Linked DNA regions of Homo sapiens. The protein of the gene in region 2 purifies or fractionates together with the protein of the main gene of each other region. This does not show direct contact. Each region holds a gene or a part of one and is shown on either strand. Other genes may lie near its edges. The genes, in order: CTTNBP2NL and CTTNBP2.

Evidence for each region.
Region 1: the proteins of CTTNBP2 (region 2) and CTTNBP2NL purify together in Homo sapiens (affinity purification with mass spectrometry; one large-scale study listed by BioGRID and IntAct). This does not show direct contact.

Annotation. Positions count from the first base shown.
Region 1 is NC_000001.11:112,458,111-112,461,664, reverse strand, and holds the end of CTTNBP2NL (CTTNBP2 N-terminal-like protein), read right to left. Parts: 3' UTR 501-3,554; downstream 1-500. UniProt on the Homo sapiens protein: Regulates lamellipodial actin dynamics in a CTTN-dependent manner. Associates with core striatin-interacting phosphatase and kinase (STRIPAK) complex to form CTTNBP2NL-STRIPAK complexes.
Region 2 is NC_000007.14:117,786,119-117,789,946, forward strand, and holds part of CTTNBP2 (cortactin-binding protein 2), read right to left. Parts: intron 1-3,828. UniProt on the Homo sapiens protein: Regulates the dendritic spine distribution of CTTN/cortactin in hippocampal neurons, and thus controls dendritic spinogenesis and dendritic spine maintenance.

The DNA.
Region 1 (3,554 bases), on a different chromosome or scaffold from region 2:
TCAGAATCGCCAGGGGAGGAGCCTGGGAATCTGCTCCTCCCCAGAGACTCTCATTTGGGAAATACTGGTAGTGAAAGAACAAAGCACTAAGGTTTAAATCCTGGCTGTCATATGCTAAGGGCCCTTGCACAGATCTCTGGCCCTCAACTACCTCATCACTACACTGGGGATAATAATACCTCACAGCACCCGTGTGAGGATTAATAAGGTAATATGTATGTGAAATCATTAGCATGGTGCTTGGTACTCAAGTAGGCACTCTTGACTCTGAATATCACTGACATTCTGCCAAACCAGTTTCAGGAGCTTAAGACATTTCCTTAGGTCAGAGGCAAATAGCAAGTTGTTGTGAAAGAACAGGTAAGGGCTATGAAGGACTGTTTCTCAAAACAGACTAGCTGCATCAGCTAGTCTGAGGATCTAATCTCCAGAAATCTTTATTTTAGCAGGCTTCCCAGGTTATACTTACGCACAGTAAAGTTTGAGAACCACTACTCCAGTCTCCTTTCCCCTCCTTTATTTTTACTAATGAATTGGCCACTGATACACAAATGGTGGGTGGACAGGCTCTCATTTCTCAACTAGTTTTATAGAAATTAAATTAAAAATTATTCCTGTGGAACAATGCTCATTGCCCACTTCTGATTCATTAGGAAAACACATCCTATTTTGAAGCCAGTGTTTTGAAAGACAGTTGAAGTTCCATTTCAAGGACTAAGCATCAGAAGCACTCCTTATGAATTCACACACACACACACATACACACACACACACACAAATTGACAAGGCAGCACTGCTGACAGGCTATTAAGGGAAACCGGATATGCTAGTATTTGTTGAAATGATCATTAATTTGCTTAAATGCTGAAAACTTCAGATATGTAAACATCCACACTATTTGAACATTTTTTAGACATCAAAGGATTTTCAAGTGCTTCTCTCTGGCTTGCATTTGCTAACATTGCAGCAGCAACAGCGCTGGAGTAGTTGAAAAGGGATGCATTAATCATTTGTAAAATGAGAGAGCAGAACAAGATTATGCTTTCTTAAGCAGAAATACATGAGCCATGGATGGCTTCAGGGTCTTTGGATCCTATGAAGCCATCAAACAAATTTTGCATATAGGCATATTCATTTTTCTAGGGATAAACTCCATGGCTTTTCTAAGATTCTCAAAAAGGTCCAGAACCACCAAAAGGTTTAAAAAATCACAGACTGGATTATTGTAAAGGCTTTTTCCAGCTCTAAGACTCTAAAGAAAATCAATGTCTTAGTTCCTTATGGAGTCTAACCTGGATGGGTCATTGACTTCATTTGTTTTGTCAAAGCCACAGTCAAGTGCTCCCTCTACACCACCCCCTCTTCCCAACAAAATATGCCCAAATTGTGCCATTTTTCACTTTGTACAAACAAGACTATTTCCCCCCAAACAGCAAGATTTAACTTGTTTTAATGCAGTCTGCTATAAAAATGAAGACTTCTGCATGGTATATTTGGCTTTACAAACGTTAATGCCTAGTTAATGCTTGTGTTATATGGTACACATCATTACAATCTGTTGGCCAGTAACAGCTTTTGCAACATGGGTTAATACTAAAATTGTGAATCATGGAACTTTTACTTAGCACACACACACACAATCTACAGCAAACTTAAATACTAATCTATAATACCTAACTGGGTTATTGGATCCATTGCAAGATTGTGCTTATTTATCTCAGAAGGTAGGCAACTAGCAAAAATACACATTTCTTTCGCATATCCCCACCCCCATATTACACTGTAAAAGAAATACATTATTCAGTGCACTTCCTAAGAAATAAACTTCCTTATAGTATCTCTCTCTATATATATCTATCCCAAAACAAAGGAAGAGCACAATGCAACTTTTAAGATTACCATTTAAAGCAAAAGAGACAATAACTCTCTGGCACTGTAGCCTCCTCTCCAGTTTAGAAAGTTTAGCTATTTTATCAACACTATTCGTTTTGGCTCTGCATAGGAATAAAGTTCAATGCATGATTGCCTTGGACAGTTTAAGATACCCCCTACATCATTTTGATAGACACCTTGGGGCATTAGTAGCATTTTTATTTTTCATGTATTTGCCTTTATCAAACTATAAGCTGTGGAGTTGCCAATATACTCCATTGTGATTTATACACTGATTTCCATCACCTGCCTTTTTACTATCAACTCTTATTAGATTAAAAGGAAATAGACTTAAATTATAGCAGGAGGTCAGGGCTGCTGGATAGATGTTGGCTCAGAGAATGTATGTGAAGACACCAAGGCCTCTCCTGTATGGACACAAAATCATATAACCACTGTGTCTGAGCTGGGTTGTGGATAGTCTTATTTGGCAGAGGGGGATAGCCATTATATTCTATGAACCTTGCCAGCTGTACTGGCCTACACAGTTGGAAAGTTTGGAGGCTTTTGTCCGCATAGACTTGCTATGATGAAAATGACAGAAGTTTCTAGAATGAAAGAGGTTGCAACTTGGCAGCTTGCAAGCTAAATCCAGCTGCAGACGTGTTTGTTTAACCAGCACCATTTAAACATTTTAAAATCACTTCTTGATATTTAAAAATGAGAATGTTTCTCATGAAAATTTGGATTTCAAAAAATGTGAAGAACTGGTAATCCTGGTTTAGCATTCTTGCACCGCAGCAAGCAGATGGAGCTGAACAGATGCCCTTTTTAAATGCGGCTTGGGCACTTTAGTTTGCCACAGCTCCCACTGCTCCCAGCTGTTTTACATCGCTTGTGTGAGAGGCCTGTTTCACTCATTTATATGACCAGTTGAGTTTTGTGACACTGGGGTTAGTTTAGCTCTGCCTATTTATTTTTTTAATAGAGATGGGGTCTCACTATGTTGATGAGGCTGGTCTTGAACACCTGGTCTCAAGAGATCCTCCCATCTCAGCCTCCCAAAGTGATAAGATTACAGGCATGAGCCACTGTGCCTGGCCAGCTCTGCCTTTTTATGATACTGAAGATCTAGGCTTCATTTGGAATTTCCTCACCTTCCTGTGGACAAAATTCCTCCTTTGATTGTGTCCCAGCCACATCTAGTTGCTTCGGTAGGTAATCTTAATGTGCAGTTCTACTTGTCCTTTATGCTATATTGCAAACTCCAAAGATATAATCACACTAGTATTTATGTGTTTAAGTGTGTGTATGTTAAACATGTAAAGGGGTAATGTATCTATACAGATATATGTATACTTCCCATTTAAGCAAAAGTTAATTTGGTTTTACAGATACAGATACCAGGTTCTGGCAGCTTGGAGAATAAGTGTAACAATTTGGTAAAACTTGTATAATTCTGACTGACCTATAATATTACAGAGTGAATTTCAAGTTATTGCTTTTTGATTACAGAATAAAAAATTCATTCTCTTGCAAAACTTTTATACAGAATGAGTAACCATTTCCTATTCAAGTAACAGCAATCAGAATCAGAAGTTCCTTACACAACAGTAGATGCTTGAGACATTTTTTGAATGGAGATGTGATTTCATTCTGTTCAAGAACTTATGCAGGAAACT
Region 2 (3,828 bases):
TTAAAAAATTCTTTATTAAAAAGGCAAAACAAAGCCAATTATACAAATGAAACTACACTGCTAATAAAAAGCTGGATATTATATCTTTATAATCAATTATTTGGGTCTATGAATAATTTATTGTTTTTAACCCTATTAGGACTACATGTAGTGACATACAAAATTAAAATGCTCATAAAATTCAATATTTATCTAAACTTTATGATATTTTCCTACTGATACTCATTAGCTCTTCTTACAAAAGTAGTATTTTTACTTCATACTTACAAGAAGGCTCCTCTCTGGTACATTTTACCTTTTGTATTTTCTTAAAAACAAACAAACAAACAAAAAACAGGCCCACAAAAATTAAATCAGTACTTATTAGAAATGCATAAACAGAGAAATTATAAACACGAAGGCATAAAACCTCGACTGCAAAGCAAACACAGGCAATATGAAGGCATCGCACTACAGTCCTCTGTGGAACAGGAGGGAATGGGGCTCATACTCAGCCTCTCTTTCATTCTCTCTTTAGATCTCATCCAAGGGGTCTTGGTTGTTGATATTCTTTTATGAATACCAATATATGTAAATGGTTTGCTATTCTTTTGGGTTTTGTTTACATTTTTCTTTTTTCACCATAAATCTAGGCTTTTGAGGGGAGGAGACAGTTTAAATATATTTTTCAACTGCCTTATATGGAAATATTCAATTGCAGCTGTAATTTCCTGGGAAACCCTATTTTTAATAAGTTATCCGAAAGACAAATTTTTTTTTCAATTTGTTTTCAATCTTTAGACCACTCAAGGGTTTTCTTACACAGAACTACAGAAGATATATCAGTTGCCTTATTTTTTTAGAGGTCTGCAATATATTTTTAAAATCTTTACAAAAGAAAAATGCTTTATAAATACCAAGTATTTTAAAACTGTAAATATGTTTTATATCTTCACTAACATTTCCAATGTTGTCTAGCATAGACAAGCTTATTTTAATAAATCCTGCCTAAATATGGGAAAAATAGGACTTCATCATGAGACTATACTGTTCATCTGAAATTCCCGACAATCATAAAAATGGTAATACTTAGTTAAGAGGTTAAATAGTGGTTAAGACAGAACAGACCGGTATTCATACAGCTACTCTAATGATGTTAGCAAAAGGTCAATCAGTTTTGCAGTGTCATACGCAAACATTAGTAAGGTGAGCATCCTGCACAACATGCCAGGAGGAAGGGAATGACTGGACATGCAATGGCAGAGGGAAGGAGTGAGAACAGCTTCTGGCATCAGCTTCAGAGGGTGGAGAAGGTTAATGTCATAGCCCAGATCATTCTTGTTTTCTGATTTAGCCTTTAAGCCAATCATACATGGAGGATAATTTTTAAAAGATATGTTTCAATAGGGAAAAGGTGTAAACCAAATTAAATCAAATGTATCAAATAAAAAAAGAAAAAACAGAAAAAACAATTTCCAAGGGTATGGAAACTCAGTTGCCTGGAGTGATTTCTGGTTTAGGCTTCTGTTCATCTAACATTTGAAATGTGTCTATTTGGCAAGTTCAGGAGGAACAAGAAATTCTAGTTCATTTAGAATTAAGAATGTTATTAAAAAATTTAACATTTGGCTATAAAGGTTGCCAAATAGAGTTTGGGTAATTTATACTACAATTCATTAAAAGGCTAACTTCTGTCATTCCAATTTTCCTTGGGGCTCTAACTTAGTCATAATTTTTATAGATAAAAGCTTACATGGAAACACAGGATTCTAGAGTTGGAAAGATCATGGGCCAGTAGTTCTCCAAGGAGGGAGAGGTAGTTTGAAAATTTATCATGCAAGTTTAAATCTTTTTTTGTTCGGGAATATTATTATATAATTTTGGTTTAATGTTTTGAGACATGGTCTCACCGTGTCACCCAGGCTGGTGCACAGTGGCATGATTATGGCTCACTGTAGCCTTGACTTCCCGAATTCAAGTGATCTTCCCACTTCAGCCTCCTGAGTAGCTGGGACCACAGGCACACACTACCATGCCCAGCTAATTTTTATATTTTTTGTAAAGATGGGATTTTGCCATTTTGCCCCGGCTGGTCTTGAACGCCTGGGCACAAGTGATCCTCCTGCCTCGGCCTCCCAATGTGCTTGGATTACAGGTATGATTACTGCAGCCAGCAATGCTTTTGTTTTTAAATGAAAAAGCTAATGGCTCAGAGGGAATTAGCTCTCTAGGGTGATACTTAGAAAGGGGCAGAAATGGACTAATCCTGCCTTACTATACTTAGTTCAGTGCTTGTTTGATCACTGAAATTGGAAGAGACACCTGCCAGGTATTTGACAGATGTGTGTTGTCCCTGTGCCTTGCTTTGGGCAATCACAATGGAATCAGTGGCTGTTTGGAAGGTTAATCCCCTTCAAAGGGCTCATGACCTGGAGAGGCACAAGCTCAACCAGGCACAGACAGGTTAGTAAGCAGGGTGGAGGCAGCTCTGGTGTTTCTTAGTTGCAATGGTCACAGTGGCGAAAATAGGGGCAATCTAAATGCAAAACAGAGTTGAAATCCTCTATCTTATTTGGAAAGATCAGCTGAACTACATTTATACTTGAGTTGTAGAGTCGTACACCCCCATTGTGTAAGTGTAATCACACTTCCATTTCCCAGTCTAGGTGCTCAGTAAACACTTGCTGAATGACTCAAGGCCTCCAGTGCCTCCGTTCTCCCTTAATAAGCCACATCTTCTAAGCAAATGACATAGAAACTGGTTATTCTACCAAAAGTAATTCAGAAGTTCTGAGAGGAATAAATAAATAAAATACTTTGGTAAAATTGCAAAAGTCAGAGAGTAGAAAATAAGGAATCCGATTTCCGTATCTTCAGTCGCTGGTATTTTTTTTGGTTTCTGGTCTATATTGTCTTTTGCTCTCCAGACATAAGTGAAGGGCATTTTTCAGAGGAGTTATAGCTCTTTTATGTAAAATTTTACTGAATCCTAGGGCAGGATATCCTGGTGAATAGATAATAGATTAGTAAATCTCTGTCTTTAAAAGTTAACAGATTTTAATCCGTTAACTTTTCAATCCTGTTGACAAAATGTTCCTCAGTCATAGATCCTGGTTTTAAAGCTTCTCTGCCGAAACCAAAGGGCACATGCAGCTAAACCCAGGACCACAGTAATGACTAAGGCAACAAGTGGCAAAGCCTCAAGGTCTCAAAGTAAAGATGGCTTTGTATTTTTTTTAAGTGACAAAACTTCTATATCCTAGGAAGTGTTTTCTACTTTACAGTCTATGCATTTATGGCAATAGCACTGCCACTGCTCCACACATTTCTGGAACTTGTGTTTTGTGACTGCCCAAAGATCTTATAGTACATTCTCTATTCTCCTGAGTAGCAAAATTCCTCTCTGAGGGTGGATTTAATTTGTAAGAAACAGCCAAAATTATTTTAGGCCACGAGAAAAGCTGTTCAACTCAGTAATACCATTTTGGATCAAAAATATAGAATGCTGAATGCCTGTAAAGACATCTCAAAATAATACTAAAGTCAATTCCATAGCAAATTCTCAAAAATACTGTAAGCAACAATATCATTGAAGCAGTAATATCACCTCTATTTATTGATTACTCATGCTATTCTAAGCTCAATACCAAGCTGACAGGTTATAGGATCCAATCCTCCTAACAGCCACCCTCCCCCATATGAGTAGCAAAAGAAGTCACCAAAAATGCACAATTGTAAATGGCAGAGACTAGATTTCAACATAGATCTAACTTCCAAGTCCATGCTGCTTCCAATTCCCTATTTCGCCCCTCAAAATATGGATAAAGCCTCTCAAAGACCTTAATTTCA